Homo sapiens: one gene and its partners. The protein of the gene in region 3 interacts with the protein of the main gene of each other region in a biochemical or structural test. Each region holds a gene or a part of one and is shown on either strand. Other genes may lie near its edges.

Region 1 (7,430 bases), 4.9 Mb from region 3:
ACACCAGCCCCAGCCAGTCACCCAACAGTGTCCATGGCTCCCGCCGAGGCAGCATCAGCAGCATGAGCAGTGTCAGCTCGGTCCTGGATGAGAAGGACGATGACCGGATCCGCTGCTGTACACACTGCAAGGACACGCTGCTCAAGAGAGAGCAGCAGATTGATGAGAAGGAGCACACACCTGACATCGTGAAGCTCTACGAGGTGATTCGCGCTGTCTGGTCTTGGGTCTAATTTCTTAGGCAGATTTGGCTGTTTGTTATGTACACTCCTGCAGATTCTGGAGAATGCTTTGGGAAGTTGTTCGTTTGAATTATTTGTAGTTCCTGTTAAAGGCCCATGTTATGATTTCCCAGCTAGGGCCCTGTGTGAGTCAGAGTCATCCTGGGTGTGTTGCAACAAACTCGTTTCAAGTGGCCTTCCTTGGCCACTTGAAAGCAGGTGGGTGGAAGCTTTGGTGGCCCAGAGGCAATAGGAGGAAGGGCAGTTGCCATGTGGTGTAGACAGGTTCTGTGGGAAGGGCAGAAGCTAGAGATGTTCATAAACAGTGGGCCAGAAGAATCCTGGGAAACTCACTTGGGAGTGTTAGACTTTACAAGTTTTAGAAAGTTCTACAAGTTTTCAGGCTTCACCAGTTTACTGAGTGTCCCCTTCTAAGTTTGTCCAAATGCCTCAGCTGTCGTTACTTGAGTGATCCCACAGCCCCCCTACTAGATGCATACTCTGAGAGGAAATAGTGTGCAAAGAATATCTGGGAGTGAGACTGGCTTGGTCCCTTAATGGCCAGGTGAGACCTGTGAGCTGAGGAAGACTAGCCAGGTGGACTGGGTGGGGAGGCAGTAAGAGATGCAGGGAAGAGATCAGCCCAGGCAGAGGAAGCAGCTTGTGCAACATTCTGAACAGAGGAAGAGTGTAATTTTGCCTAATGACCACTGAATAGTCATTGTTAGTAGTTCTGCAGGTCATAATGGCACTGTTTCTGGAATCCCTATGTAAATACTCAGGCTACTAGAAATGGTGTCAATTAAGCCCCATGTTGGGTTGCAGATGTAGCATTCTCCATCCTTTGTGTGGAGTTCACGACCTGGTATCTCATTTCTGTGAATACCCACGGTGCTTGTGCCACCTCCTCTTTTGAAGTAAGCCCTGGCAATGCCTTGTGCTGGTTTCCCATTGTTGCCTGGCATCACTTGGCAGAGAAAGAAAGTAGCAGCTAATTCCTTTTTGTCTTGGTAGACACCTTGGCTTGTGCCCTGGAAGCCTTGCTCCTCTCAAAAACATCTCGCCGGGCACTTTGGGAGGCCGGGGCAGGCAGATCATTTGAGGCCAGGAGTTCGAGACCAGCCTGGCCAACATGGCAAAACCTCGTCTCTACTAAAAATATAAAAATTAGCCGGGCGTGGTGGCAGCGTGCCTGTAATTCCAGCTACTCAGGACGCCGAGGCATGAGAATCGCTTGAGCCCAGGAGGCAGAGGTTGCAGTGAGTGGAGATCGCGCCATTGTACTCCACCTTGGGTGACAGAACAAAATTCCTTCTCAAAAAAAAACAAAACGAAACATCTGATCAGAAGCTCCATTCTCACTTTCTTTCCTTCCTACAAAATTTTCTGCTTGGAAAGTATGCCTATAAATCAGGAAATTGATAACAACAATTAATGTGTTAGAAAAGTGAACATTTTAAATATAGCTCCATTGATGGAGCCTAGCTTCTGGGTAGGTGTTTCTATATCTTGAGCATACCACTTACCTCTTTGTTTTTGTTCTTAGAAATTACGACTTTGCATGGAGAAAGTTGACCAGAAAGCTCCAGAATACATCAGGATGGCAGCATCATTAAAGTAAGCTATTCATCTATGTTTTTCTAATCCAGTGGTGACTGTTTTCTGGCATTTTAGGTCAATTCTCCAGTAGCCAAAAATGAAAATCTTAACTTCAACCGTGCTTTTTTTCTGAGACCAGCTGAAGTTGGTTTTTTTCCACTTTTGGCTATTATGAAGAGAATCATCTTCATGTCTGTCTTTTAGTGGGGTACAGGCTACCATCACATGAGCTTGTAGAAAGACAGCCACATTCAGTTGACCTTGGCTATTCTGACTGAGCAGGTTTGGGAAGGGCCTCAGACAATAGGTACTGCTGCTGAGTGCAGCATCTGGACAGAGCAGAGGAAGGGCAGTGGGTCTCATGCTCATGTCTGGGTAGATGCCACTTGAGTGTCACATTGAGGTGTCAGGGCTTAAAGCAGGCATGACCATTAGAGCAGGGGCTGGCAGACTGCAGCCCGTGGGCCAAATGTATCCTGACATCTGCTTTTTTTTTTTTTTTTTCCGAGACGGAGTCTCACTCTGTTGCCAGGCTGGAGTGCAGTGGCGTGATCTCGGCTCACTGTGACCTCCACCTCCCAGGTTCAAGCAATTCTCCTGCCTCAGCCTCCCAAGTAGCTGGGACTACAGGCACGCACCACCACGCTCAGCTAATTTTTTTATATTTTTAGTAGAGACGGGGTTTCACCATGTTGGCCAGGATGGTCTTGATCTCTTGACCTCGTGATCCACCCGCCTTGGCTTCCCAAAGTGCTGGGATTACAGGCGTGAGCCACCGTGTCTGGCCAACATCTGCTTCTTTTTTAAAATTGAGATGTAGTTCACACACCCTAACCTTTACCCTTTTAAAGTGTACAGTTTGGTGGTTTTTAGCGTATTCACAAAATTAGCGAACATTACCACTGTCTTCATTGTAAACATTTTTATCACCCCAGTAGGAAACCCCATACCCATTAGCAGCCACTGCCCTTTCCCCATCTCCCTGGACACCACTAATCTATTTCCTGTCTCTATGGATTTGTCTGCTTTTGACATGTCATATAAATAGAATCATAAATATAAAATCTCTCTTGTCTGGCTTCTTTCACACAGTGTACTGTTTTTCAGATTCATCCATGTTGTTGCATGTATCAGTACTTCATTCCATCTGTATGAATGCATTGCATGGATACTTGTCACATTTTGTTTATCCATCAGTTGATGAACATTTGGGTTTTTTCCACTTTTGGCTGTTATAAATAATGCTTCTGTAATATTTGAGTACAAGTTTTTATGTTTTTTGTGTAGACATGTTTTCATTTCTCTCGGGTAGGTACCTAGGAGTGGAATTGCTGGGTTTTATGGTAACTATATATTACCATAGAGTAACATTCCATAGAGGAATTGCTAAATCGTTTTGTGGAATGACTGCACTATTTTGCATTCCCACCAGCAGTGTATGAGGGTTTCACTTTCTTTATAGCCTTACCAACACTAGTTATTGCCACCTGTTTGCATAAAGTTTTATTGGAACACAGCCATGCCCATGTTTGATTACTGTTTGTGGCTGCTTTTGCACCACCATGACAGAGTTGAATAGCAGCAACAGAGACTGTGTGGCCTGCAAAGCTGAAAACATTTATGATTCGGCTCCTTATGGAAAAAATTTGCTGATCCCTGCTTAAGATCGTTGCTTTTTCTGAAGCTTAGTGTTTGTAACCTAGAAGTTAAAGTGCTAACTACTAGAGTCAGATCCCAGCAGTGTTTTCCCAACCTGTAGGAAAAGAATTAATTATGGTATCTAGTGTTATTAATTTCAGAGTTTTCTGTCTTTGTCTTAAACCTGTGTTGCCTATCTGCCACATTTAAAGCGATGCATGTAGTAGTAGATGTGCCTTTTTTAAAAACAAAACCATGTGTATATATATATTTAAAACAAAACCATGTATATATATATATATATATATATATATATATATATATATATATATGTATTTTTTTTTTTTTTTTTGAGACCGAGTTTTGCTCTGTCGCCTAGGCTGGAATGCAGTGGTGCGACCTTAGCCCACTGCAACCTCCGCCTCCCAGTTCAAGCAATTCTTCTGCCTCAGCCTCCTGAGTAGCTGGGATTACAGGCACCCACCACGATGCCTGGCTAATTTTTGTATTTTCAGTAGAGATGGGGTTTCATCATGTTGGCCAGGCTGGTCTCGAACCTCCTTGGGTACTTTTGAGCGAGAAAAGCCAAGTAGCTTTCTGCTCTTAATGTAGTGTAACCACTTCTTACATCTTGTTAGATATAGTGGAATTGTTTAGGAAAAGTAGGCCAGAGTAAATTCAGCCGCATTTGTTTTGGTGATGAGCATAAGGGCTAGTCCTTGGAGGCCTTGGCATGAATCTGTCCCTGTTGCGTCTGCAAATCGAAACATCACTTCCACTTGATTCATTCATTCCAAGAGATGGACACTGCATTATATCTGAAAGTCTGAAATGCCACCTTTAGAGAATTAACTGCCTTTGTGAGGCCTTACACCTTTAGCGTCCTTCTACACTATGCTGTCCAATCTGCACCATGAAACTTAGGTCACGTGTCTCTGGTTTCTCCTTAGTGCTGGGGAGACAACCTACAGTCTGGAACATGCCAGTGACCTTCGAGTGGAAGTGCAGAAAGTGTATGAGCTGATAGACGCTTTAAGGTAAGGTCCATTAAGTGGTATCCTGCCCGCTGGTGGAATGGAGAAGATGCTGTTCTAATGAAATGGCGAAAGCAGACCTGCACTCACTCAGACTTCTGGTGATGGGGCAGTGGGTGAGGAGGAGGGCAAGGAAGGGGCCAGCTCTGGCACTTAATGCATCTCAGTGACTTTTGTTTCGTTAAGGATTTCTAATGTTTGCTATTATTAAAGAAAGAGGAGCTGGTTATTGACACCTATCACCTGCCAGTCACTGGCTGTTTTCTCTAGAATAGCTCATTTATTCTACTGAAGTTACCCTGTGAGGTAGGGATTAACATCCTGTGTCAAAGGTGAGGAATCATGTCACAGATAGCAAAAATTGTGGAGTGAAGATAGAAACTCAGGTTCTTTCTTTGTGTCTGTGCTCAAGTCCACAGCTGCTTTTTAACTGTGGACTGGCCATTGGGGTTAAATTAGCCAGTGACTCAGAGGGAGAATAAGATGAGGTGCCTTTGTCCATCCAGACATACAGCAGGAGTTCGTAGTTGCAGGGCCTGGTACAAAATGAAAATGCATGTCCCCTGTTCAAAAGTTATTAAGAATAAAGACACTAACAGCAGAGCATTAAACCAAGCACAGGGCTCTTTTAAGTGCCAGTCCTTTCCAGTTGCATAGGTTGCTCACCTGTGAAGCTGGCTCTGCATGTGTAGTCAGTCACTCCATAACAGTGTTGTGCGCCCTTTGCTAAGGCCTGTGTACAGCCAAAGGGTAAGAAATGGGCTTTGCCTTCAAAGAAACTTCAATGGAGTCACTTGTCCATCTTTACACACCTTCCTGGCATGAAAGCCTGGCAACTCCAGATGTTATACTTTTCACCCTTGTTTCTGAAGCTGGCAGTGCTCATTATATTCATGTGTTTGTTCCAATTCAGTAAGAAGATCTTAACCTTGGGCTTGAACCAGGACCCTCCACCACATCCAAGCAATTTGCGGCTGCAGAGAATGATCAGATACTCAGCTACACTTTTTGTGCAGGTAAAGCCATCCTGGGTTGGCATAAATGTTGCACTTGGCCTGTCCTGCTCTTTTGCTTCCCAGGAGGCAGATCCATGCCAATGACTTGTTTACTTCCTATTTATACATTTATTATTTTTTGAAATTATGAATGCATGATGCCACACTTAGAGAAAAATCTGGATTTCAGAGAAAACTAAAACTACTTTTAATCCTATGTCCCCATTACAATCACTCATTATTCTGGTATGTTTTCTTTTTTCCCATTTGTATTTTTTATATACAGTAGTTACGATACTGCATATTGACTGTATATGCCATTCTTTAACCGTTTTCCTTTAGTTGGACATTTGATAGACTAATTTTTTGCTGCTGTTAAGTGTTGCCATGATAGTAATAATGGTACTTAGTATTTCTTCCTTAGGATAATCTCCTAAGAGACTCTTCTTGAGCCATCAGCTGGGAGGAAACAGCCGATTAAGGGCAGACTAACCTAAGTGGTTAGATCTGAATTGTGTCTTTCTATCCCTGAAGGCCCCTTCTGAGAGAGTCACAGTTAACCACTCTTGGGGCTCCCTGATAAAGAGATCTGTTTTTTTCTTTTTTTTTAAATTAAAACAAAGTGTTTTTTTTTTCTTTTATTAAATAGAGACAGGGTCTTACCATGTTGCGCAGGCTGGTCTCAAACTTTTGAGCTCAAGCAGTCTGCCCACCTTGGCCTCCCAAAGTGCTGGGATTATAGGCGTGAGCCACTGCACCCAGCCAACAAAGAGATCTAATAGACAGAGTCCTGTCAGGTTAGTTTTCTAACTCTGTAGTATAGAGAAGTAGGCCCTTCCTCACTTTGATTAGTGACTCTATTCAGCAATCATTTGTTGAGTGCCTCCTATGTACCAGGTAGTGTTTTAGGTGCTGGATGTCCTATAGTGAACAAAAAAGACCAACGTTCCTGTTCTCATTAAGCTTATGTTCTAGAGAAGGAGAGAGATCATAAACAACTAAAATATCTAGTATGTAAGATAGCAAAAGTGCTCTGGAGAAACTTACAGCAGGGAAGTGTGGGAGAGAGGGCTGGGATTGAGGTTTGCTAAGTTAATAGGATGGGCAGGGACAAGACCTCATAGAGAAGCTAACATCTGAGCCAGGTGAATAACTGGGATATCTGATGTTGATCATTTCATAAGGAAAATGCAGGCCCATTTGGAGTTGACTGTCTCACCCAATATGAGTTCTCTCCTTTCTAGCTGCTGTCAAATGATGTCACTCTCTGAGAACAGAGTGGCTCAGCTTAAGCAGACTCTCATCATGGGGCTTAAGGTTCATTTTTTCTCTAAAAGGGTTTAAGTGTAAAATTGTCTGTCACTCCCTGCAGGAAAAGTTGCTTGGTTTGATGTCACTGCCAACCAAAGAACAGTTTGAGGAACTGAAAAAGAAAAGGAAGGAGGAAATGGAGAGGAAGAGGGCCGTGGAGAGACAAGTGAGTGAAGCCAGGGATATGGGGCCTGCTTCCTCCTGTGGCTCTCAAGCACAGAGGCTGCCATGGGCTCCCAGGTTGTGTGCGGTTGTAGTGAATCAGAACCTCTCTCTCAAATGTGCATATTTCTTCTGTTGTGTTTCAGCCTCACTTTCATCTATGGGAACTAGAATAATTGTTTTTCTCCCCAGGGCCTATTTTTCTTTCAGAGCTTCTGCTGATTCTCTCATGGCTAGAATACCACAGAGATTGACAGTTCTCCCTATGGCAGGAGTTGCAGAGGACCAAGACATTAGGAAGTTCCTTGTAGAACATATCGGTATATGCAATATTAAACAGAAAATTATATGTGTATTTAACGCTGCGTGAGATTCCAGTGTAGATGAGGGGAACAGACCTTAGAGGTTTAAGAAAAGTATACGGCCTGTGAATCTAAGATTGAGAAAATCTGATGCCCTAACTTATTCAT
Region 2 (7,430 bases), on a different chromosome or scaffold from region 3:
TGCCTTCAAAACTGCTCAATTTCTCCAGAGGCCTCAGTTTCCTTTTCTGTTAACAATGGAGGTCAGACCAAGTGGTCTCCAAGGGCTTGCCTTGCAGTGACCATCTACAAGCCTATGTACTGTTTCATCCACATTCCAGTCATTATGATCATTTGTCAAATGCCTGTTGTAAAGTAGTTTGATACACTACATTCAGTTATTGACATGTTTGAGAAATAGGAAAATATTGACATATCAAATGAACAGAAAGATCACTGAGAGCTTTTTAAGGTCCAGGCAATGAAAGAAATCAAAATACATTGATATTCTTTGCCCTTCAAAGGAGTTTATAGTCTGGCTGAGGAGAAAAGATTTTTAAAACGTTGAAAAGTTAAATTACAGTATTCTGAGACTGGAGGAGAAGAACATGTTGGTTCCTGATTAGTCTGTCCACAGAGAGCACAGTATTTGATGGGCCACAATGTCAGCAATGAGTGTGGGCACAATGCGAAGCTCAGGAGGCACACAGGGCCGCAAGACTGTGCCTGTGACTTACTGAGAAGAATCACAGGAGTTCAGAGGAGGGAGGCGGGGTGCCGGCTGGCCTAGTGGATAAGGAAGAATTTGAGCTGGGTTGGGAGAGTTGGGTGAGCAGCAGAATTGGGATAAAGATGGAAATAAGGAAAAGCATGTGGTATGTGTGGTACAGCTCTCGTAGAGGGTGCATTAAAGGAGTGGAAAGGGAGGCTTTTGGGGAAATTAGAGCCAGATGGTGATTAAATGCCAAGCCAGGACCTTTGGTTCATTCAGCTAACATTTTTTAGTGCCTACTATGTTCCAAGAATACATATGACTTAGCTATAGCATAGGCCCTCCAAAACCTGCCTCACAGAGAAGGATACAGACAGAAAACTAGTAACACAGTGCAGGATGCTGTGCAGCAGAGAGAACTGCAGGAAATGGGGCAGACTGAAGGTTTTTAGCCAAGGATATGAAGGAAGTTTGAAGAAGGTTTATTTGTAGAATGGATTAAGGGATTGAGGTCAATCTTTCCCCTTGTATTTTCATTCATAAAAGTCACCTCAGCCTTCAACAAGTATTCACTTGATTATAAAAGCGTAAGGTTAAGGGAATTGATTTTTTTCCCCTTCAGCCAGAACCTGAAAAATTCAGAGATGGAAAATGAAAATGACAAGATTGTTCCCAAAGCAACAGCCAGTCTACCTGAAGCAGAGGAGCTGATCGCGCCTGGAACGCCGATTCAATTCGATATTGTGCTTCCTGCTACAGAATTCCTTGATCAGAACAGAGGGAGCAGGTATGGGCTGAGAGAGGTTATCTCTGGGAGAACTGAAAGTAAATTTGAGGTATCTTGTGTCCCCCTCCACCACCAAAGACTGTTGCCATTCTGATTTCCAGTTCAAGTGTTAAGTGCCCTTCTAGCTGCAGCTGTCGTGTTTGTTCAACTCTGGCTATTCCCCTAGGCGTACCAACCCTTTTGGTGAAACTGAGGATGAATCATTTCCAGAAGCAGAAGGTAAGTGACTAGTTTGGTGTCCTTATTCTTTCCTCTGCACAAAATGACAACGGCCATTGAAATAAGATGTGAAATCATGTTTTAGAGAGCTATGATTAGGAGTATGAATTAAGATTTGTTGTTCTGAAAGTTTAGTAAGATATCTGCAGTGGAGGCAAGTCTTGGATAAAAACTGAGGGGTAGCTGAAAGACCACCTACAGCTATTTCACCATTAGCCATAGCGTTTTTGTAGCATAGCATAGAAATGTTGTGAAATCTGAATCTGTTATCACATTCAAATGCAGTCTTGGTGAACTGGAAATACGCTGTGTCATTTTAGAAAACCAAAAGCACAAATAACTTGTTCTTGAATTTGAAGATGACACAAATGATATTTAAGTCTTTCAAATTCAAATTTTTGGTTTTTTACATTCTTATAATGTACTTAAGAACGTATCTGATGGCCGGCACGCTGGCTCACGCCTGTAATCCCAGCACTTTTGGAGGCCGAGGCAGGTGAATCACGTGAGCTTAGGAGTTCAAGACCAGCATGGGCAACACAGTGAGAACCCTGTCTCTACAAAAATATATATATATATACAAAAATTAGCCAGGTGTAGTGACAGGTGCCTGTAATCCTAGCTACTCAGGAGGCTGAGACATGAGAATCACTTGAACCTGGGAGGCGGAGGTTGCAGTGAGCTGAAATCATGCCATTGCACTCCAGCCTGGGCTACAGAGTGAGACCCTGTCTCAAAAAAGAAAAAAAAGAAAAAACCTTCTTTGGTCTTCTAGTTATGGTTGCTGGGAGTCAGTTTTGTCAAGTTATGCGCCACTGTCAGCAGCCAGGACTGACTTCCTTTAGGCTATGAAACATCATCACTGCCTTTCCGTAATACACATGAAGTATGAATTGCATGAGACCCAACATGAGATCTTATATCCTGCAAATAAAATTTCTTTTCTAAGAGGACTTTATCAGTGGGCCAAAGTAATGAATTTTCTATTGTCTAGTGAACTCACTCTTTTCAGAGAAAAGGTACAATGTAGTCACCTAGAGTTTCAGCATTAGAAGGATGTTCATCTGGTACCACCATCATTTCATTTTATAGATGAAGAAAAGCCTTTCTAGTCTAATGAAGTAGTTCCAAACAAACTGACAAGATGTAGACAAATGGAAGACGCAGAGCTTTGGCAATATTGGGCTTATAAAAGTGGTATTGAGAAATTTTGGTAGAAAGTCCTCCACAGAAAGCAGGCAAAACTAGCACATCTGACCCTGGTATGCAGATCAACAGCAGCAGGAAGTAAATGAGATCCTGAGTGGAAAATGCTGTCTTCCAGATTCTCTTTTGCAGCAGATGTTTATAGTTCGGTTTTTGGGATCAATGGCAGTTAAAACAGACAGCACTACTGAAGTGATTTATGAAGCGATGAGACAAGTATTGGCTGCTCGGGCTATTCATAACATCTTCCGCATGACAGAATCCCATCTGATGGTCACCAGTCAATCTTTGAGGTACGTTCAGTTTTATTTTCAGACTTTCTTATGGCTTCAGCTAATTCCCCTTTTAAGGCTAATGCACCCATCTGAAATGTTAGTACTGGAATGAAGAGACTACTCTTGCTTTTGCCCCCACTACTTTTTACATAAGATAGATAGCCTAGAAAGTGCTCCCTTAGAGACAAGAACTGGTATCTTCAAAAATCCAGTGGTGAGTGAATACTGTTGTTCACAAAGATGCCATCACACTAGACTTATTCTCTATATTATAGCTCAGAGCTTGAAAATGGAAGTTTTTTGGTTTTGCTTTTTTTTTTTCATTTCTGAGAGTACTATTTATAAAAAATAATGGAAAAAAACTTAAAAATCTGCCTAAATAACTTGGCCATCACAGAGAGAGCAGGCCATATTAACTACATGATTTAGTGTTTCAGGTAATACGATCTGGGTTTCAGATATGACCAAAATCCTGGTTATGAACATGGGTGTATGATACTGTAGCCACAGGTAGCATCTGCAGCAAAACTAGCCTGAACTGAGATGTGTTTTCAGTGTTAAATACATACCAAATTTCTAAGATTTAGGATGTAAAACATCTCACTAATTTTTTAGGTTAATCACATGTCTGGTAATATTTTAGATATACTGGATTAAGTAAAATTAATTTTATCTGTTACTTTTCACTTAATGTGGCCGCTGGAAAAACTTCGATGACATATAAGGCTTCCATTACATTTCTAAGGGACAGCACTGCTTTAGAGCCAGAATGTCTCAGTTTATTCCTGGCTTCGGCATTTCTTAGTTATGTGACCTTAAGCAAATTTTTGAGCCTCTGTACCTCAGTTTTTTCAGCTGTAAAATGAAAGTAACTATTCACACCCTCCACTGTTGTCATGAGGAATAAATGTCATGAGGAATAAATGTGCTAATATATGTAAGACATTTACAACTCACTGGCACATGAAAAGTGCTCAATGAACGTTAGCTTCAAAAAAGGTAACTAGGACTATAGCAAAAATTAGGATATAGCTTCTTCCATTCATTAAGCCCATCCTTTTCATTTATTATGAACCTTATCTGAGAATTAAGTTCTTATTAATAAAACCTGTTCTTTCACTATGTCCTGGACCTTTTACAGAAATGGGCTCATGGTTCTTATAATCCTATTGGTCCTGGAATAATTTCCACCAAAAAGATCAAAGGAAAATATATGTAAAAGTACTGTGAAAAACCACAGCACATCAAAGTGAAAAGAAAAACTACAGAATGGGAAAAAAGTATTCACAAATTCTATCTAATATGGATGTAGTACACAAAATATACAAAGAACTCTTATAAAACTCAACAGAAAGACAACCCAATTAAAAAATGGACCAAGGACTTGAAATAGACATTTTTCCAAAGATCATATACAAATGGCCAATGAGGACATGAAAAGATGCTATGTGTTACTAGGGAAATGCAAAACAAATCCACAATGAGATATGTCACTCCATATTAAGATGGCGTGCGCACGCATGCACACTGTCTCACAGATGTTTATATATATATGATATATATGATATATATATGATATGATATATGATATGATATATGATATATATATGATATATCATATATATGATATATATGATATCGATATCATATATATGATATATATGATATATATATGATATATATATTTAATGGAAAATAAGCGTTTAGCAAGGATGTGAAGAAACTGGAACCCATTGCTGGTGGGAATATAAAATGGTTCAGCTGCTGTGAAAAAATAGTTTGGCGGGCTCCTGGGTAGTTACCCAAAAGAATTAAATACAGGTGTTCAAACAAAAACTTATACGCAAATGTTCATAGCAGTCCTTTTCGTGATATCCAAATGGTGGAAATAATACAAATGCCCAACATCAAATGAATGGATCAACAAAATGTGGTAGAGTTGAGCATTCCAAATCTGGAAATCTCAAATGCTCCAAAATCTGAAACTTTTTGAGTGCCAACTTGATGCTCAAAAGAGATGCTCATTGGAGCATTTTGGATTTTGGGATGCTCATCCTGGTAAATATAATGCAAGTATTCTAAAATCTGAAAAAAAAGCTGAAATCCAAAACAATTTCAGATACAGGATACTCAACCTGTATATATATATGATGGAATACTATTTGGCCTTAAAAAGGAACAAAGGACTGATAAGTGCTACAACATGGATGAATGATGAAATCATTGTGCTAAGTGAAAGAAGCCAGGTACAAAAGGCAACATACTGTAGGGTTCTGTTTATATGAAATATCCAGAGTAGGCAAATCCATAGAGACAGAAGACAGACTAGAGATTGCCAGAGGGTGGGAGGAGGAATGAGTAACTGCTTAATGGGGATGGAGTTTCCTCTGGGATGATAAAAATGTCCTGGGACTAGATAGTGGTAATGGCTGCACAAAGTTATGAAGACACTTAACATCACTAATGATAAATCTGACGTTATGCATACGTCACCACAGTAAACATACCCCTGCAGTGGAATAGGTTCTGAGACCATTTAGAGGTCACACAGAAAATTAGAAGATTTAAAAAGAAAAATTGATTCCCAGACAAGGTGCCTGAATAGGAACAGCTCCAGTCTGCAGCTCCCAGTGAGACCAACACAGAAGGCAGGTGATTTCTGCATTTCCAACTGCGGTACCCAGCTTATCTCACTGGGACTGGTTAGACAGTGGGTACAGCCTATGGAGGGCAAGCAGAAGTAGCGTGCGGCATTGCATTACCCAGGAAGCACAAGGGGTCGGGGAACTCCCTCCCCTAGCCAAGGGAAGCCGTGAGTGAGGGACAGACCTATCCAGCCCAGATACTAGGCTTTTGCCACTGTCTTTGCAGCCCGCAGACCAGGAGATTCCATCGAGTGCCTACACCACCAGGGCCCTAAGTTTCAAGGACAAAACTGGGCGGCCATTTGGGCAGACACTGAGCTAGCTGCAGGAGAATTTTTTTCGCACCCCAGTGGCGTCTGAACCTCAGCGAGTCCCAACTGTTCACTCCCCTGGAAAGGGGGCTGAAGCCAGGGAGCCAAGTGGTCTTGCTCAGTGGATCCCATCACCACGGAGCCCAACACACTGAGATCCACTGGCTTGAAATTCTCACTGGCAGCACAGCAGTCTGAAGTTGACCAGGGATGCTCGAGCTTGGTGGGGGGGAGGGGCATCCGCCATTACTGAGGCTTGAGTAGGTGGTTTTCCCCTTAGAGTGTAAAGAAAGCCATCAGGAAGATCATACTGGGCTGAGCCTGCCGCAGCGCCATAAAACTGCTGTAGCCAGACTGCCTCTCTAGATTCCTCCTCTCTGGGCAGGGCATCTCTGAAAGAAAGGTAGCAGCCCCCAGTCAGGGGCTTACAGATCAAACTCCCATCTCCCTGGGACAGAGCACCTGGGGGAAGGGGTGGCTGTGGGCGCAGTTTCAGCAGACTTAAATGTTCCTGCCTGCCAGCTCTCAAGAGAGCAGCAGGTCTCCCAGCACAACGCTTGAGCTCTGCTAAGGGACAGACTGCCTCCTCAAGTGAGTCCCTGACTCTGGTGGTTCCTGACGGGGAGACACCTCCCAGCAGGAATCGACAGACACCTCATACAGGAGAGTTCCAGCTGGCATCTGGTGGGTGCCCTTCTGGGATGAAGCTTCCAGAGGAAGGAGCAGGCAGCAGTCTTTGCTATTCTGCAGCCTCCACTGGTGATACCCAGGCAAAGAGAGTCCGGAGTGTACCTTCAGCAAACTGCAGCAGACCTGCAGAAGAGGGGCCTGAAGGAAAACTAACAAACAGAAAGCTATAGCATCAACATCAACAAAAAGGATGACTACACAAAAACCCCACCCAAAGGTCACCAGCATCAAAGACCAAAGGTAGATAAATCCACAAAGATGAGGAAAAAGCAGCACAGAAAGGCTGAAAATTCCAAAAACCAGAATGCCTCTCCTCCTCCAAAGGATCACAACTCATTGCCAGCAAGGGAACAAAATTGGACGGAGAATGAGTTTGAAGAATTTACAGAAAGAGGCTTCAGAAGGTGAGTAATAACAAACTCCTCCAAGCTAAAGGAGCATGTTCTAACCCAATGCGAGGAAGCTAAGAATCTGGATAAAAGGTTATAGGAACTGCTAACTGGAATAACCAGTTTAGAGAAGAACATAAATAACCTGATGGAGATGAAAAACACAGCACGAGAACTTCGTGAAGCATACACAAGTATCAATAGTCAAATCGATCAAGTGGAAGAAAGGATACCAGAGATTGAAGATTAACTTAATGAAATAAAGTGTGAAGACAAGATTAGAGAAAAAAGAATGAAAATGAGTGAATAAAGCCTCTAAGAAATATGGGACTATGTGAAAAGACCAAACCTATATTTGATTGGTGTACCTGAAAGTGACAGGGAGAATGGAACCAAGT
Region 3 (7,430 bases):
AAGATTAATCAAGGTGGGATAATGCAAGAATTTCAGACAAAAAAGGAAATAGTCCATTATAAAATTATCTTGCACAGTGCTCTTACCTCTGTTGTAGCTTATTATATAGTTGTTGATTATAGATGATTATAGGAATCAGGTTGTAGTAATAAGAAAGTCTCCTTTTCTATAACAAGTTTAAAGCAGGTGTAGTGTATTTCCAAGAGATATATCTCATATATCTCATTTTTTGTTCTGTAAACAGGAAGCACAGTCCTATGCAGATGACAATAGTTTATTATTCATGGAGACATCCGCTAAAACATCAATGAATGTAAATGAAATATTCATGGCAATAGGTAAGATTAATATCTCTTTTTAAATGATCAATATAAGCAAAACAAGTGTGAAGCATATTTGGTTTGACTGTCTCTTTTTTAAAAAATTTTTGGGGGTGGGTTTGTGTGTATGTTTATGTGTGTGTGTGAGAGAGAGAGAGAGATTATACCACTTTTCTAAGTCCCTTCCACAAAACAATATTTTGTTGGTAATATTGTTAAATTTGAAAGATGATTACCTATTAGGTTGTAATACTGTCAGTTTAGGCAGCTTCTTCCAGGTGAGTTAAGCCTTAACCTCTTAACCTGATAGTTCAGACAGACAGATTTTGCAAAGGTTTCGCTGGGAAATTTGGATAAATATTTTTTTTATTAGATTATACTTTTTAAAAATCAAATTATTGGTAAATATAACTCAGAAGAACATGACACATAAGTATACAGATTGACAAATTATTTTAATGTAAACATTATAAGGAAGATGATTTCAAAGCATAGAGGCGTAAGGAGAAAAAAGGAAAACAAAACAACATCCATACTTTATATTACCTCAGATGGTCATTTGATCTTACACAATGTTCTTGCTGTTGCTTTAAGGTACTTTTTTTTTTTTTGAGACAGTCTCGCTCTGTCGCCCAGGCTGGAGTGCAATGGTACGATCTCAGCTCACTGCAACCTCCACTTCCCGGATTCAAGCGGTTCTCCTGCTTCTGCCTCCTGAATTGCTGGGATTACAGGTGCACACCACCACGCCCAGCTAATTTTTGTATTTATAGTAGAGACAGGGTTTCACCATGTTGGTCAGGCTGGTCTCGAACTCCTGATCTCGTGATCTGCCCACCTCGGCCTCCCAAAGTGCTGGGATTACAGGCGTGAGCCACTACACCCAGCCTAAGGTACTTTCTTTTTTTTTTTTTTTGAAATGGAGTCCTGCTCTGTCACCCAGGTTGGAGTGCAGTGGGACGATCTCGGCTCACTGCAAGCTCCGCCTCCTGGATTCACGCCATTCTCCTGCCTCAGCCTCTCCTGTAGCTGGGACTACAGGCACCCACCACCATGCCCGACTAATTTTTTTTGTATTTTTAGTAGAGACGGGGTTTCACCATGTTAGCCAGGATGGTCTCAATCTCCTGACCTTGTGATCCGCCCACGTCAGCCTCCCAAAGTGCTGGGATTACAGGCGCGAGCCACTGCCCCTGGCCCTAAGGTACTTTTAACTGATGGTAATTGCTGTTTCAGTTATAAGTAATGAAGTTGGAGTAGTAATAAGCCTCCTTTTTTCTATAACAAAAATAAAGGTTGGTTTTGTTTTTTGGTTTTGGATTTTTTTTTTAACCCTTTCCTCTTTCCAGTGGTTTTAATGTATAGATTCTACCTGAAGGGTCTGTTTTGGTGGTTCTCAAAGTTTGCCGTCTGTGGTTTTCATGTGCCCAGCACTCTTCTCATCCCATAACACCTTTTATTTTACAGCACTGATTCTTAACTGGGGTGTTCACAGTCCTAACCCCAAGTAAGAAATATTCTTAAATTGAACTCATAAATAGTTAATAGCTGAATCAGAGAATAATGAAAACCCAGTAAAAGTTGCAAGTATTTTTATTATTTTTCACTAGGTGACAGAGTTTAATGGTACTTCATTCGAAATGGGAAAGAACTTGCCTTTTCTCATGTAAACTGTTTTCCTGAAAAACTCAAGTTTGCAGTTTGCTAGGGAAGTGCTGGCACAGTTGCGAAGGATTGTGTGATAATATACTCATTTTACAAATGTGACAGATGACACCCAGAATCACATCTGAAAAGTTAGAGGAAACAATGAGTTAATAGGCCTCTCAAATCAGCCTGCACTGTAAACCTTTCTCACAATATTTAAACTCTACCAGATGGGCTTTAGTTTGTACCTTTTTATTCAAACATGCTAATAAAGTCATTTTTCGAGTTAGAAAGCAGCCTACATATTTTAGTTTTTTGTTTTTTTCTGAAATCAGAATGTTGCACTTCTTAAAAGAAAATCTATGTTGTAAATGGAATTGTGGCCTTTCCATTTCCTTCACTAGGTTAGTAAATTTTTTTTTCTTTTTTTTTTTGTTATGAAGGAACACTTTGATAGATTAGTAACTTAAATCACACAGTGCACTCATAACAACTCTAATCAATGCAAGGACTAAAAAGTTACTCGTTCTAGTTTACCTCCTTCATCCTCTTAATCTCACTCACCTCTGATTTAAACACTTAGGGAACATGCTAAAGGGATACATGATTGATTACTCAATCTGGAACCTAAGTTGTTATTATATACAATATATAGTGCTATTTTGTGTCCCAGGTACCAGTGTTCAACATTTCTGGGGCTTTGCTTGTAAATACATTTGACTGGAGATTTACCATTATAATGCTATTTATGCTACCAGCCCAGAGCCAGTCCCAGAGAAGTGGCCCAATTGAAGGCTTTCTTTCCAAACTTCAGTGCTCCTGGCTCCCAAATCCATTGCCCAACCCAGCATCTAGGATTCTAAAAATGATTGATGCTGATGTAGAATGGAATGTGTAGAACAAATAAAGGATAAAAGGTTCACAATGCAACTAGGCAATCCGATCTCAAAGCAGAGTGTATTCAATTTCTGAGTAACCTGAGTCAAAGCTATGGTAAAGTTAGAGTCTTACCATAGTGGTCTGTCCCCAAGATTGATAGAGATCAGTGTGTGCAGCCACTCTTAAAATCAGTACTCTTAGTCATCTTTAATATTCTGCCTCCCCTCAAAAAATGAATTTAGCACATCAAGGATCTTATGTATTAAAACAAACTACAGCAATCTCCAACTTTACAGTGGTTTGACTTACGATTTTATAACTCGATGGGGTGAAAGTGATATGCATTTAGTACATTCTTAACTTACTACGGGATTACATACAGAAACCCATCATAAATTAAAAATATCATAAATCAGGCTGGGCGCAGTGGCTCACTACCTGTAATCCCAGCACTTTGGGAGGCCAAGGCGGGCTATCACCTGAGGTCAGGAGTTGGTCAGGAAACAAGCCGGGCCAACATGTCGAAACCCCGTCTCTACTAAAAATAGAAAAATTAGCTGGGTGTGGTGGTATGTGCCTGTAGTCCCAGCTACTTGGGAGGCTGAGGCAGGGGAATTGCTTGAACCCAGGAGGCAGAGGTTGTAGCGAGCTGAGATCGTGCCACTGCACTCCAGCCTGGGTGACAGAGCGAGACTCCGCCTCAAAAAAAAAAAAATCATAAATCAAAAACATACAACTTAGGATGGATATATCAGGATGTAGCCCCATTGTAAGTCAAGGAGCATCTGTATATCCAGCAGGTAAGTTTTTTTAATCAGTGGGAAGCACACTCCAGAGAACAGCCACTAGCTGTATAGAGCTTGGCAGAGGTAAAGCCGTAACTGCTGGTTGAGAGTGTTGTCTGAATTTGACAAGCCACACTCATCGGACTCAAATAAAATTAAGAAATAGTTTTTGGAGATGAGGTCTTCAGGATAATTCTATCTGGATTAGGTACAGCTACTGGTCAGTCAGATTAGGATTCATCAGCCCATAAAAGGAGAAAATGAGGTTGGTTGAGGTGGCTCACTCCTATAATCCCAATACTTTGAGAGGCCACGGTGGGATGATCTTCAAGGCCAGGAGTTCTAGACCAGCCTGGGCAACAGAGCAAGACCCTATCTCTACCAAAAAAAAAAAGCCAGGCATGGTGGTGCACACCCTGTAGTCTCAGCTACTTGGAAAGCTGAGGTGGGAGGATCTTTTGAGCCCAGGAGTTCAAGGCTGCAGTGAGCTATGATTGATGCACCACACTCTAACTTGGGCTACAGAGGGAGACCTTGTCTCCAAAATGAAAAGAAGTATGGCTGCAGGCTACATTCAAACTAAGATCACAACGAAGTGTTGAGTATGTATAAATGTATGTGGATATGTTTGTGTCTAAGTGTATTTCCACTAGCATGCTAAGGTATGTTTGTGTGTGAGTATGTTTCCTCCAGTATGCTAAGTTTTGACACATGCAGGCATCTAACTTGGGTGTTATCTGTCCTTCCTTTGCCCAAAGCATAGATTATAATTGTTCATTCTCAAAAATGCAACTCTTATCTATTTCCCCTTTATTTGAAGGCAGCTGATGGTTACTCTGCAAGGTGTAAGTTTCTCTTTTAAAAACTAAGCGGTCGAGCATGGTGGCTCATGCTTGCAGTCCCAGCACGTGGGAGTCTGAGGCGGAAGAGTTGCTTGAGCCCAAGAGTTCAAGACCAGCCTAGGCAACAAAGTGAGACCCCATCTCACTTTGGAACTCAGGACTGCAGTAAGCCATGATCATACCACTGCACTTAATCCTGGGTGACAGAGTGAGACCTTGTCTCTTAAAAAAAAAAAAAAAGAGAGCATGTATATAGATGTTTTAAGGCCAAAGGCTGTGGAAGCCAGGAAGGAAATAGTAGATATGATCTATCACAATTCGGGGTGATAATTAGTTGCACAGTAGAGGACAAGTTTTGTTGGGGTGATGATTGCAAAGGTATTTGTATCCTGACTTGTTCTAAAAAATGTTTGTGGCAGTCTAGAGAACGCTGATATGAGCTGAGCTTCTTTATAAACTTACTGGCTGGCCATCATCTTTATTGACTTAGATTTTATTTAATAGAAGTAATAATGAGGCCAGGTGCCATGGCTCACGCCTATAATCCCAACACTTTGGGAGGCTGAAGCAGGTGGATCACCTGAGGTCAGGAGTTCAAGATCAGCCTGGGCAACATGGTGAAACCCCGTCTCTACTAAAAAACAAAAATTAGCTGGGTGTGGTGGGGCATGCCTGTAATTCCAGCTACTCGAGAGGCCAAGGCACGAGAATCACTTGAACCCAGGAGGTGGAGGTTGCAGTGAACTGAGATCACGCCATTGCACTCCAGCCTAGGTGAGCCTGGGTGACAGAGTGAGACTACATCTCAAAAAAAAAAAAAAAAAAGAAGTAATAATGAGTATAAAATAAAATAGAACTTTTCTGGTATTATTGAGTGAATCGGTATAGAGAATTACATAAAGCACTAGTTAGGCTTAAGTTTTAATTGTATCTACAACCAGTCCCCATCTACCGTTCCCCCAACACAATTACCCCAGAAATCAAACTCCCTAAGACAGCAACCAATATTTTGGCATTCAATACTCAGTAAACATTTGAAAAGAATGAACATATGGTTATATGATACTTTGGGGGTAACCTAACTGGAAAGAAAAATTATAGATAAGCAGGTGAAACTGATATTAATATGAGTATTCAAATATTCTATTTATTTGATCATTTTCTTTCAGCTAAAAAATTGCCAAAGAATGAACCACAAAATCCAGGAGCAAATTCTGCCAGAGGAAGAGGAGTAGACCTTACCGAACCCACACAACCAACCAGGAATCAGTGTTGTAGTAACTAAACCTCTAGTTTGAACTAGCTGGAATAGTCTTCTGCTTCCTAAATGTTAATAACAATGGAATTGGAGCATTTAACCAGCCCAGTATGACTTCCAAAAGAAGAGACTTATGATAGAGTCAAGTTTCTAATACAGAATTATTTTAAGTGTTTTGAACTTAATTTTTAATAACATGCATGGGTCCCTCTCACTAATGTTTCAACAATAGGGAAAAATGAGAACTATGTGGACACTTGTTTCATTGGAAGGTTAGGGGGAATAATTTCTCATCACTAGGAATATAGACAAATGACTGTCTGGGCCCACACAGTTAACCAGCCCATTTCTCCACACTGGTACAGTAGTCACCTGTGAAAAAAAAATTGGAACTTACTAATTTGGGCTTTTCAAAAACATTCTTTGTTTAGAAGGAGATTCTAAAGTTATTTATGATGCTTAGCCATAGTATTCAGGCAAATGTTCATTTCTCCTGGTACCTGTATTTAAAATGTACATTCCACATTTTAATAAATTAACCACAAGAAAATAATCCCACATATACAAGGTCAGGGGTGGGGAAGAGTATTAATGGTATCTTAATTATACCCAGTCTGGTTTTTTTTTTTTAAATGGGGTAAAAATCAAATGCAACCCCATCTTGTTTTAGGAATTTTGAGAACTAATAAATGCACCTTAATGGTCAGTGTTCCTTTCAAACATGTGAGTTCTTTAACAAAAATGAAATAAACCAGGTGTCTGTGATTTCTAATTAATCACCGCTGGCCATTACACAGGTTTTGTTGTTTGGGGTGGGGAGGGGGCTTTTGTTCCCTTTTGACATAATATAGTCAATGCACTAACAATTATGTATATTCAAACTTGATTATTTTAAATTCGATCTTCAGCTGTACTGTAAATAGGGTACTGCATTGTAGTCTCCATATCTGTATTACTTTTCTGTAATATTTAAGAGTTGCTTAAAAGCATACAAAATGTACTGTTACTAAAACAGCTAATTATTTCTCTCTCCCCCTTTGACAGGAAGGGGCTTCAGTTGTTCCTCCATGGCTAGAACCATAATAAACAATGTACCCGTAATTTGTAACATAAAGTATTGCAATATGTTAGTAACAATCTTGCAGCCTTCCTTTCCAAAGTTCATTTTATTTTGATCAGTTCAGTATATTGCACTAATTATTTTAGGTATTTTCATTATATGAAAGCTACCATGTGTCAGAGATGATTTAATCTATTTAAGTGTTGGACTGCTAGGAGAACTTGTACATTTATGATAATGCAGAATTAGGAAAACGGTTCACCAGTGTTTAGTTTTATATTGAGGTGCTCAGGTTGGAATAAAGTGGTATAAAAAGCAAGTATCGGCTTTTCTCTTTTCCTTTTTTTTGGCATAAAACAGTGAATATATATAAATGATACTATATGACCTAGTATCCGCTTTTATATTTTCTTTACTATGTTCATAAAATTATTTGCATGGTATTGATGAATCATCCTAATAGCTGGATCATTGAAGAATCACTTTATATTTTGGTGCTCTGGATAATTGGAACTTTATTTTTTTATGTCAGAAGCTGATATTCACTTCCATTGAGAAATATTACCATAACTGTAATGTTGTCTCTGGAGCCAGCCAGTAAAGCAGCATTTACAAGTTCATGGCTAACATACTCAGCTG
Region 4 (7,430 bases), on a different chromosome or scaffold from region 3:
TACAGGTTGGGGTGCTGGAATAGCCATGGTAGGGAAGCAGATTTCTTCTGTCTGGGTCTACATCTTGTCTCCTCTACCTAGAGATTGTCTAAAACTCTCAACTCTGTATATGTTCCAGGATGAGCTGAAAAAAGGTCGAGGCAGTACACCAACTTAGTGTTTTGATCTGATGTAGAAAGAGATAGGATACTGCATACGTGCAGCACAGAGCCTCCACTAACCACACCCTTGATCACCCAAAGATCCCAGGTCAGTGATATGCTAGAAAACAAGCCCAGGAAAGGTATTTCCCTGTGGTATGACCCTACCCCAGTGTCTATCATCTGCCTCTTTTTGTGATCACTTTCTGGCCTTGCGGAGATGACAAACCTGTTCTGCTCTCAGTCTTCCATTAACTAAGTTCAACACCTAGCCCCTGACCTATCATACCTCCAGATCTGTGGCACCAGTAACTTGACTCCTATTGCTTTAACTCTCAATCAGGAAAGGGTTTAGCCATATTGCAGAATACGTACCTTCCCCCCCACCCCCACCAAGAAACAGGAGAAATCACTGGTGGTGCCTTGGATATGCTAGAAATGTCACAGAGTCAATGCCCAGGATTGTACATACAGCCTGTACGTTATGCTCCTTGCAATTAATGTAAACAGGCAAGGGTGGTTGTAACAAAAGAAAACCAGGAGGAACCCAACTGCATCAGGCAGTTTTGCAGTCAGTGGTTGGTGGCTTGTTTGTCAACCAATATAGATTAATTTATTTTAAAAAAAGGCTGTACCACAGAGCTTGAATAAATGAAAAGCTCAGAGGGTCATCTTGTATGGGAGAGGTAAGGTGCTTGGTTGGTCCTGTTGGCCAGTCTCTTTACACAACACTGGATATGGTGACTGGGAGCCAAGGGGAGTCTCTAAACCCTTTATGTGAAGGAGCTGGTTGTAGAGCCCAGAGTCAGTCCTGCTGAGGAAGGAGGTGACATCTGCCCTTGGTATTTCAGAAGACCAGAGAATGGATTCTAAGGGTCATCCACAATACCTTTGCTGTGGGAAGGAGCAATAGCTCTAGATGGGCCTGCCTGAGGTACAAGACTTCCTCTTTTACTGTGGGGCCAGTGTTGCTCTGGAGGTGGATGTCTAGGCAGGAGATGGGTCTCAGAGACACCCAGGATTAGTCCTTGTGTAAAATTTGAATAATAACAGGAAAAGGATAGTGGGAAGCAGGACCTGTCAAACATGAATGCTCTCACTCTTCAGATACTCAAAGTGCTTCCATTCTGATTGTGATTCTCTCTCATCGATGAGATGCCATCTCTAATAGTCCCTACAGTTATGCTACTAAATGTGATCTAAGAGAATATGGTTCCACCCAGTGTGGAGCCATGAAAAGGCCAATGTTACAGAGACATAAAGATGCCATTGTAGTAGAAATGCACAAATGCATGTAATAACTGCACGCAGACAGTGAATTCACTGTTGAGGACACCCAAGGAGTCACTAGCCTCACTCAGACTTCGTTCAAAGTGACAGAACGAGGGGAGTGGAGTGCAAAGGAGTGATCCAGGAAGGGGTGGGTCAAAAGTGCAAAACAAAGGACTCTAGACAAGTCTCAGCTACAGCAAGTAGTGCTTGTAGGCCTAGAATGGGAAGATCTCAGAATCTAGGCCTAGGGTACTAAGGACAATCATGACAATTGGGTAGGAGGGCAACAAACACATCCCTAGGTGAAGGAGTGTAAATACAGATCTTTTTGCCTTATAAAGAGAAAACACAAAAACACCAAAATATGGTAACTTTGGCTTGGCAATATAAGTCTAAAAGTATTTTTCTGTGTAGGATATGGTAAAGGAGGGATTAGGAAACGCTCTTCCTTTTTACTATAAACAGAACTTGAAATTCTGCAATAGACCCTTCCTGTGGCATGACTTTTTAAATCATTCTGAAATACTTGGAGCCCGAGATCGTCTGCTTCTAGAATATCAGAGAACAGTAAAAGCCTTAGTCTTCTTCGCTCCCAAGCAGAAAGCCCAGAAGGAACTGAATAGCACGCTGGCGGTCACTTGGAGTCTGTCTTGCCATAAGGTTGGGTGGAGGCCTCAGGAGAAGACTAGTGAAGAGAGTAGCTACAAGACGAGAGAAAGACAAGCGGAAACTTCTGTCAGACATAACCTAAGCAAAACCTCAGGGCTGGAGGGCCTGGGGACAAGGACTATTGACTGCCATGTGCCTGCATATGCAGTAAGGTATATACTGGATACAATGCACTAAGAGTATTCTCAACAAACGCCCCGTGTTGCATGAAGCACTCTTACCGATCATGTTGGCATTGACGCTATTGTATTCAGAGAATTTTAAGAGTTCTCGAAGGAATGCCATCAAGTAACGGAAAACATTTCTATGGCATCTCGGAAGCTGGGAGATCACCTGTTTTTAAAAATAGGGGCAGGCAGTGAGAAAAACAGGTGGAAGATGAAAGTAAGAGGAACTTACAGCTGCTGTAATAGTAGTCTATAATCCAACCCTTGCAGGACCCATTTCATCTGTCTAACTTCTATTATCTCCTCATGGCCAACACAATACCTTCCAAATTATAACTTCAAAGTAAGAGTGGCCGTGCTGTTTGGTCCCTGTCCACTCAATGACCAGGCCACGTGGTCATCACACATTCATACGCACACCCTGCCTCACAATAGGTCAGTGTTCATCTGTTCTTTTCCCATTTCCGTAGGCATGTAGCCACGGCACCTACCAAGCTGAATGGTTTTCTGTTCTTTTTTGTTTGAATGGTTTTCTTTACAATGTCACTTAGCATGGATGGGGACTCCTCTCAATACTCACTAGTCCAATTCACAGGTACTGTCAGCTACTGTGCATTAAAATCATTTCAGGATTAAAAACACACACCAAGAAGAGAAAAAGAAGAAAGGCTCCCAAGTGTCACCCATCCTTCCTGGTAATGTCAGCCAGAATTCCACGTACAATCAGCTTCACCAATTTACCCCAGAGTAGAGGGATCCACCCCACTATGTTTTCTGTAAACAGAAATAGGCCAATGGGAAAAAGGTGGCAAATATCGTAGGAAACAACACAACCTAAAATTTAAGGGTAGCAACTCTCAATGTTGGTGTCCTGCCATTAATAACAGATGCAGACCCATCCTACCAGACAGCTGGCTGCCTATCTGGCTCTGTAAAACTGACGACTTCTCTATGGGGCAATCTGCGTCAAACACATCCCCAGGTCAGTAGAACCCACCTGTCGGCAGATCCGGGGATCATAAGCAGAGTCAAGACATCGCTGATACAGCTCGTAACAGATGACTGGCTCTGGCAGGGCTTCCAAGAAAATGAGCAGTGCTTCAGCCACAGAGTGGTTGCTGCCAGCTGAATCAACTTAAGTCAAGGGAAAGGAGCTCCAGGAGAAAGGCCACACAGAGCCCCGACGAGCTCCTTTCCTCAAGCTCCTACAGGGACTGTTTCCCTCCTCTTATTCAGGGCACATTGATCCTAATGGGGGTTTGATATTTTATTGATTCAAGTGCCCTGCAGGTGAGTTGTTACAGAATTGGTCAAAGACTCTTGGCAGCTTTGGCCCAGCTTCAGGGTCAGGGGAATATAGCCTGCAGAGTGACAGTTGACACTGGAGCAGTCCTATAAACCAGGTGCCCATGTTTCCCATCCTTCTCCCTGCCCTGTCAACAGTACGTGTGGTGGCAGGAGTGACTGATCACCTGAAGGAGAATAGTACCAGTGCTGTGGCTTCTATGTCCCATGCTTTTAAGTCATTGTTATCTACCCCTTGCTTCCTTTTAGTAAGAGCTGGATATGGAAAGAGGTCAAAAGTTCCTGAAAGGAAATGAGAAACAAGTGGATAGTCAGTGGTTATCTTATAATAAAAGATATTACAAAGAAAATAAATATAGAACCACAAAAATCAAATATAGGTGCGAAGAAGAGTTTGATCAAGTACTCATCCAGCTTCTTAAGCTTTGGTCGCAAAGGATACGGATTGTCTCAGGAATGCTGGTATCCAGACAATCAATGATCTGCTGGAGCTCTTCCTGCATTCCAGGGGTCTGGAACAGGTCCTCCTACCAAAGAAGTCAGAATGAAGGGACAGGCAAGATAATCACTCCTGAGGTTATGATGATTACCCAAGGATCAGAAGAGCAGCAGGAAGCAAAAGGGAAGGGTGGTATGTGTGTTAATAATTACAAATGGAGGTGTGAAAATAACACATTTTTCCTTTAGCATTTCTCTAATCCATGTGAAATGTTATTTCAAATAGGAAAATGATCTTTTCAAAGGTTTTAGCCTGTACCTAATAAGGCAGGGGACTAGATGGCTAGAGCAGGAAACCAGGTGTTCTAATTCTAGCCTCCTTTAAAATTTTTTTTTATAGAGATGGGGTTTCACCGTGTTGCCCAGGCTGGTCTCAAACTCCTGAGCTCAAGCAATGCGCCCGTCTCTGCCTCCCAAAATGCTGGGATTACAGGCATGAGCCACCATGCCTGGCCTACTTGTAGCCTCTTGACAAGCAGCAGAAGGCAGAGTCCAAACAGAATAACCACATTCAAATGCTAGTACTACTGAACGCTGGGGAAGGAGGAAATCGCATGCTCATACTAAACCTTGCTTTCAAGTTACATTATTCGTCAGTAGGTAAGAGAACATTACCTTTCAATTTAGTCCCAAGAAATATCTCTTTTGGGGGCGAATGAGGTGGGGTGGCATTTTAGTTAGGATTTAAAAGAAAAATTAGGACCAAGTTAAAAAATGGGTTTAAAATCTGCTTTGGATTTTACAATCTCTAATGCCTACATGACTCATAGCCAAAGTAGGCATTATAGACTCAGGTGTGCAGCTGTCCAGGGAAAATGAGAGGGTAGCCAGGAGACAGGTGCTCTTAATTTGGTCCTGGCTCTGCCACAACTACACTTAGGCCTTTGTCTTAGTAAATAACTTACCTTTACATGCTTCAGCTGTGACATCTGTGACTAGGACACTTCCACCCACCCAGTCGATCTGACAGTGCCACTGTGTGCAGGTAGCTTGGGAAAGTTAAAAGCGCTATGCTGACGTGAGGTGTTGTGATTTCCTATAGTAGTTACACACCTTCCAAAGTTGTAGGGAAGGTCTACTCTCACTTACCTGGTGACAGGCGTATTTGAATAGGTGATCTACTAGAAGCCAGATCTCCTTGGGAACCTGAAGGGGTCTCTCACTGGCACCTTCATCCAAAGGAACCATTTGCAGAAGGGATTTCTCCTAATAGATGGAAAAGTATGAGAATCAAAGGGGTCTCAGAATAAAGACTTTGGTGTATAACTTAAAGTCCTTCAAATTCTGGTCATGCAGGTAAAATGTGATCTTCATCTCTTAAGATTTTCCATTTCTTCTCACTGGGGACACTCCTGGTCAGAAGGCACTTGATAGCGAGTCCCATAGTTAAAGGATGTCCTTTCCTAAATGCTTCACTTAATTGTTCTGCATTTCATTTGCGTTTATGATGTTTATTACGTGGATGCCTTGTGTTTAAATCCTTTCAAAGGTGACACTGAGAACCAGTGCTCCGGTGATACAGTCACAGTGGAGTCCATACAGCACTGGTGACTTGGGGACTATTAAATTACAATTGTCAATACAGTAGTTTGAGAGATCAAGGTCTACACTTAGGTTTTTGTTTATTTCTAACTTACTCTTCCTTCAGGTCTTACCACAGATACTGTTGTTTGTTTTCAATGTTGATTTAAATTAGCTTCTTTAGTTTTCAGGAATTAAAGACAACTCTCCACAACATTAGACCCACATATGTAAATACTTCAGGCTTGATGGAAGTTCTAATCTTAAGGTGCTAAAACTCGTAAGCCTTAAGGTCCAAAAATAGTAAACTGAATACAGCTAACCAAGAGGCAGAAATACCACGAAAAGTTTAAGGTCTGAGTCCAGAAGTTACAGTTTCTAGGAATAGCTCAGCCAAGATTTCTAGGGGCTTTTACTCCTTTCATCTATCTTTCTACTATCTGTTATATTCTTCTGAAAGAATTTTGTAAGAGAAAAACCCAGAAGTGACATAAATCAAATCAATCACTATATGTGAATTGGAAATGGCTAGGAAATAAACTCAGTTATCTTAGGTTCATGTAATCAAATATAAATTACATGAAAAAATGTTTGAAATAGTAAAGGCACCTGAAGGCACCCTTCATAAAAATCCCAGTGGAGAGAACCATGACCAATTTTTTTGCATCCTCCTCCCTCCCCCGCCTCTAGCTTGAGGTCATATATATTCTGTATGTTTAACTAAGAAATTCTTGCCTAACATTGTGCAACTTGTGAATTCCATCCACAACCCCCAGTCACGTAGCTTTAAAAGAAAAAAAAAGGAGCATGTCACTACTTTGACAGAGACCACATACACTACAGCCGAGCTGAGGTCTCTTCTTAACATTGTGTTCTTTAACAAGCACTGATGACCTTTAAAAGCTGCTGTGCCTTTCCAAGGGAATAAGAAAGAGAAGGGAGTGTGACAGTTGGTTACCATTTAAAATCTTTCTTTTTTTTCCCCACATTCAGTTTGCTTCCTTTCTTTCCCTGGGATTCTATCACTTGATATTCATGTTCCTAATAGTTGCCAGAATGTCTATCAATGGCTCATCCATTTACTTCTTTCCAGTTACAAATATCAAATCCAAGCATCCACATGGTATTTGAGACAAAACACTGTCCATCATGCACTCTGCTAACTCTCTGGACCAAATGCAGCACGTGTACTGATTCTTTAGCAGATGCCTCCAAACTTGCCATATAGAAATTATGCAGCACTGATTCATGTACTTTTTAAAAAGTCTGACATCCAACTGGAGCTTTTCCTGTACTAAGGCATTAAGGCAACACAAGGCACTGCCTAAGATAAAAAGACAGAACATGGACTGCTCTTAACAGGGAAGAGCTAGGAAGCACAGCTGTCTCAAACCTTGGTGGTTTAAAAAGGTTAATAAAGTGTCAGTAGATTATATACACCATCCACTATTCATTTTCAAATTCCTGTATGATAATATGGAATGCCACAGTTGTGTCTCCAAAGTCTAGAGAAAGATCATACACAGAAAATACTTGAATAATTTCACAAATTATCCTGAACTCTAATTTTCAAAGGAAAACCAAGGTACTTTGTCTTCTTTCAACAAGACACATTCAGCGCCTGATAAGCCCACACTCTGTAACCTTACTTAGTGTTAATAACTAAAGCATGAAAACAGTATACCATCCCCATCATCAAAAGGCATTAAATTCCACCAAGTGGGTACAGTGCATGACTTCAGCAAGTTTTTCAACCTTTCTGGGCCTTGGTTGTCTCATCTATTAGAATGGAGAAAATACCCTGTCTGAAGGTAGAGGCCTGAACCAGATGATCTTTTATGATCTTGTTCAGGTCCAC

The links.
Region 1: the proteins of RAB5A (region 3) and RBSN form a complex in vitro, tested with the Homo sapiens proteins (3 studies listed by BioGRID, with this or other methods).
Region 2: the proteins of RAB5A (region 3) and APPL2 form a complex in vitro, tested with the Homo sapiens proteins (one study listed by BioGRID).
Region 4: the proteins of RAB5A (region 3) and OCRL form a complex in vitro, tested with the Homo sapiens proteins (2 studies listed by BioGRID and IntAct, with this or other methods).

The regions. Positions count from the first base shown.
Region 1 is NC_000003.12:15,075,140-15,082,569, reverse strand, and holds part of RBSN (rabenosyn-5), read left to right. Parts: coding exon 1-203; intron 204-1,767; coding exon 1,768-1,838; intron 1,839-4,408; coding exon 4,409-4,495; intron 4,496-5,405; coding exon 5,406-5,508; intron 5,509-6,859; coding exon 6,860-6,964; intron 6,965-7,430. UniProt on the Homo sapiens protein: Rab4/Rab5 effector protein acting in early endocytic membrane fusion and membrane trafficking of recycling endosomes. Required for endosome fusion either homotypically or with clathrin coated vesicles.
Region 2 is NC_000012.12:105,183,858-105,191,287, reverse strand, and holds part of APPL2 (DCC-interacting protein 13-beta), read left to right. Parts: intron 1-1,132; coding exon 1,133-1,297; intron 1,298-1,463; coding exon 1,464-1,516; intron 1,517-2,840; coding exon 2,841-3,015; intron 3,016-7,430. UniProt on the Homo sapiens protein: Multifunctional adapter protein that binds to various membrane receptors, nuclear factors and signaling proteins to regulate many processes, such as cell proliferation, immune response, endosomal trafficking and cell metabolism.
Region 3 is NC_000003.12:19,978,066-19,985,495, forward strand, and holds the end of RAB5A (ras-related protein Rab-5A), read left to right. Parts: intron 1-244; coding exon 245-338; intron 339-1,895; exon of another isoform or gene 1,896-2,109; intron 2,110-5,642; coding exon 5,643-5,758; 3' UTR 5,759-7,110; downstream 7,111-7,430. Other genes in the region: PP2D1 (protein phosphatase 2C-like domain-containing protein 1), read right to left, coding at 7,315-7,430. UniProt on the Homo sapiens protein: The small GTPases Rab are key regulators of intracellular membrane trafficking, from the formation of transport vesicles to their fusion with membranes.
Region 4 is NC_000023.11:129,584,829-129,592,258, reverse strand, and holds part of OCRL (inositol polyphosphate 5-phosphatase OCRL), read right to left. Parts: intron 5,258-7,430; coding exon 5,141-5,257; intron 4,081-5,140; coding exon 3,996-4,080; intron 3,374-3,995; coding exon 3,246-3,373; intron 2,415-3,245; coding exon 2,303-2,414; intron 2,114-2,302; coding exon 1,989-2,113; 3' UTR 1-1,988. UniProt on the Homo sapiens protein: Catalyzes the hydrolysis of the 5-position phosphate of phosphatidylinositol 4,5-bisphosphate (PtdIns(4,5)P2) and phosphatidylinositol-3,4,5-bisphosphate (PtdIns(3,4,5)P3), with the greatest catalytic activity towards PtdIns(4,5)P2.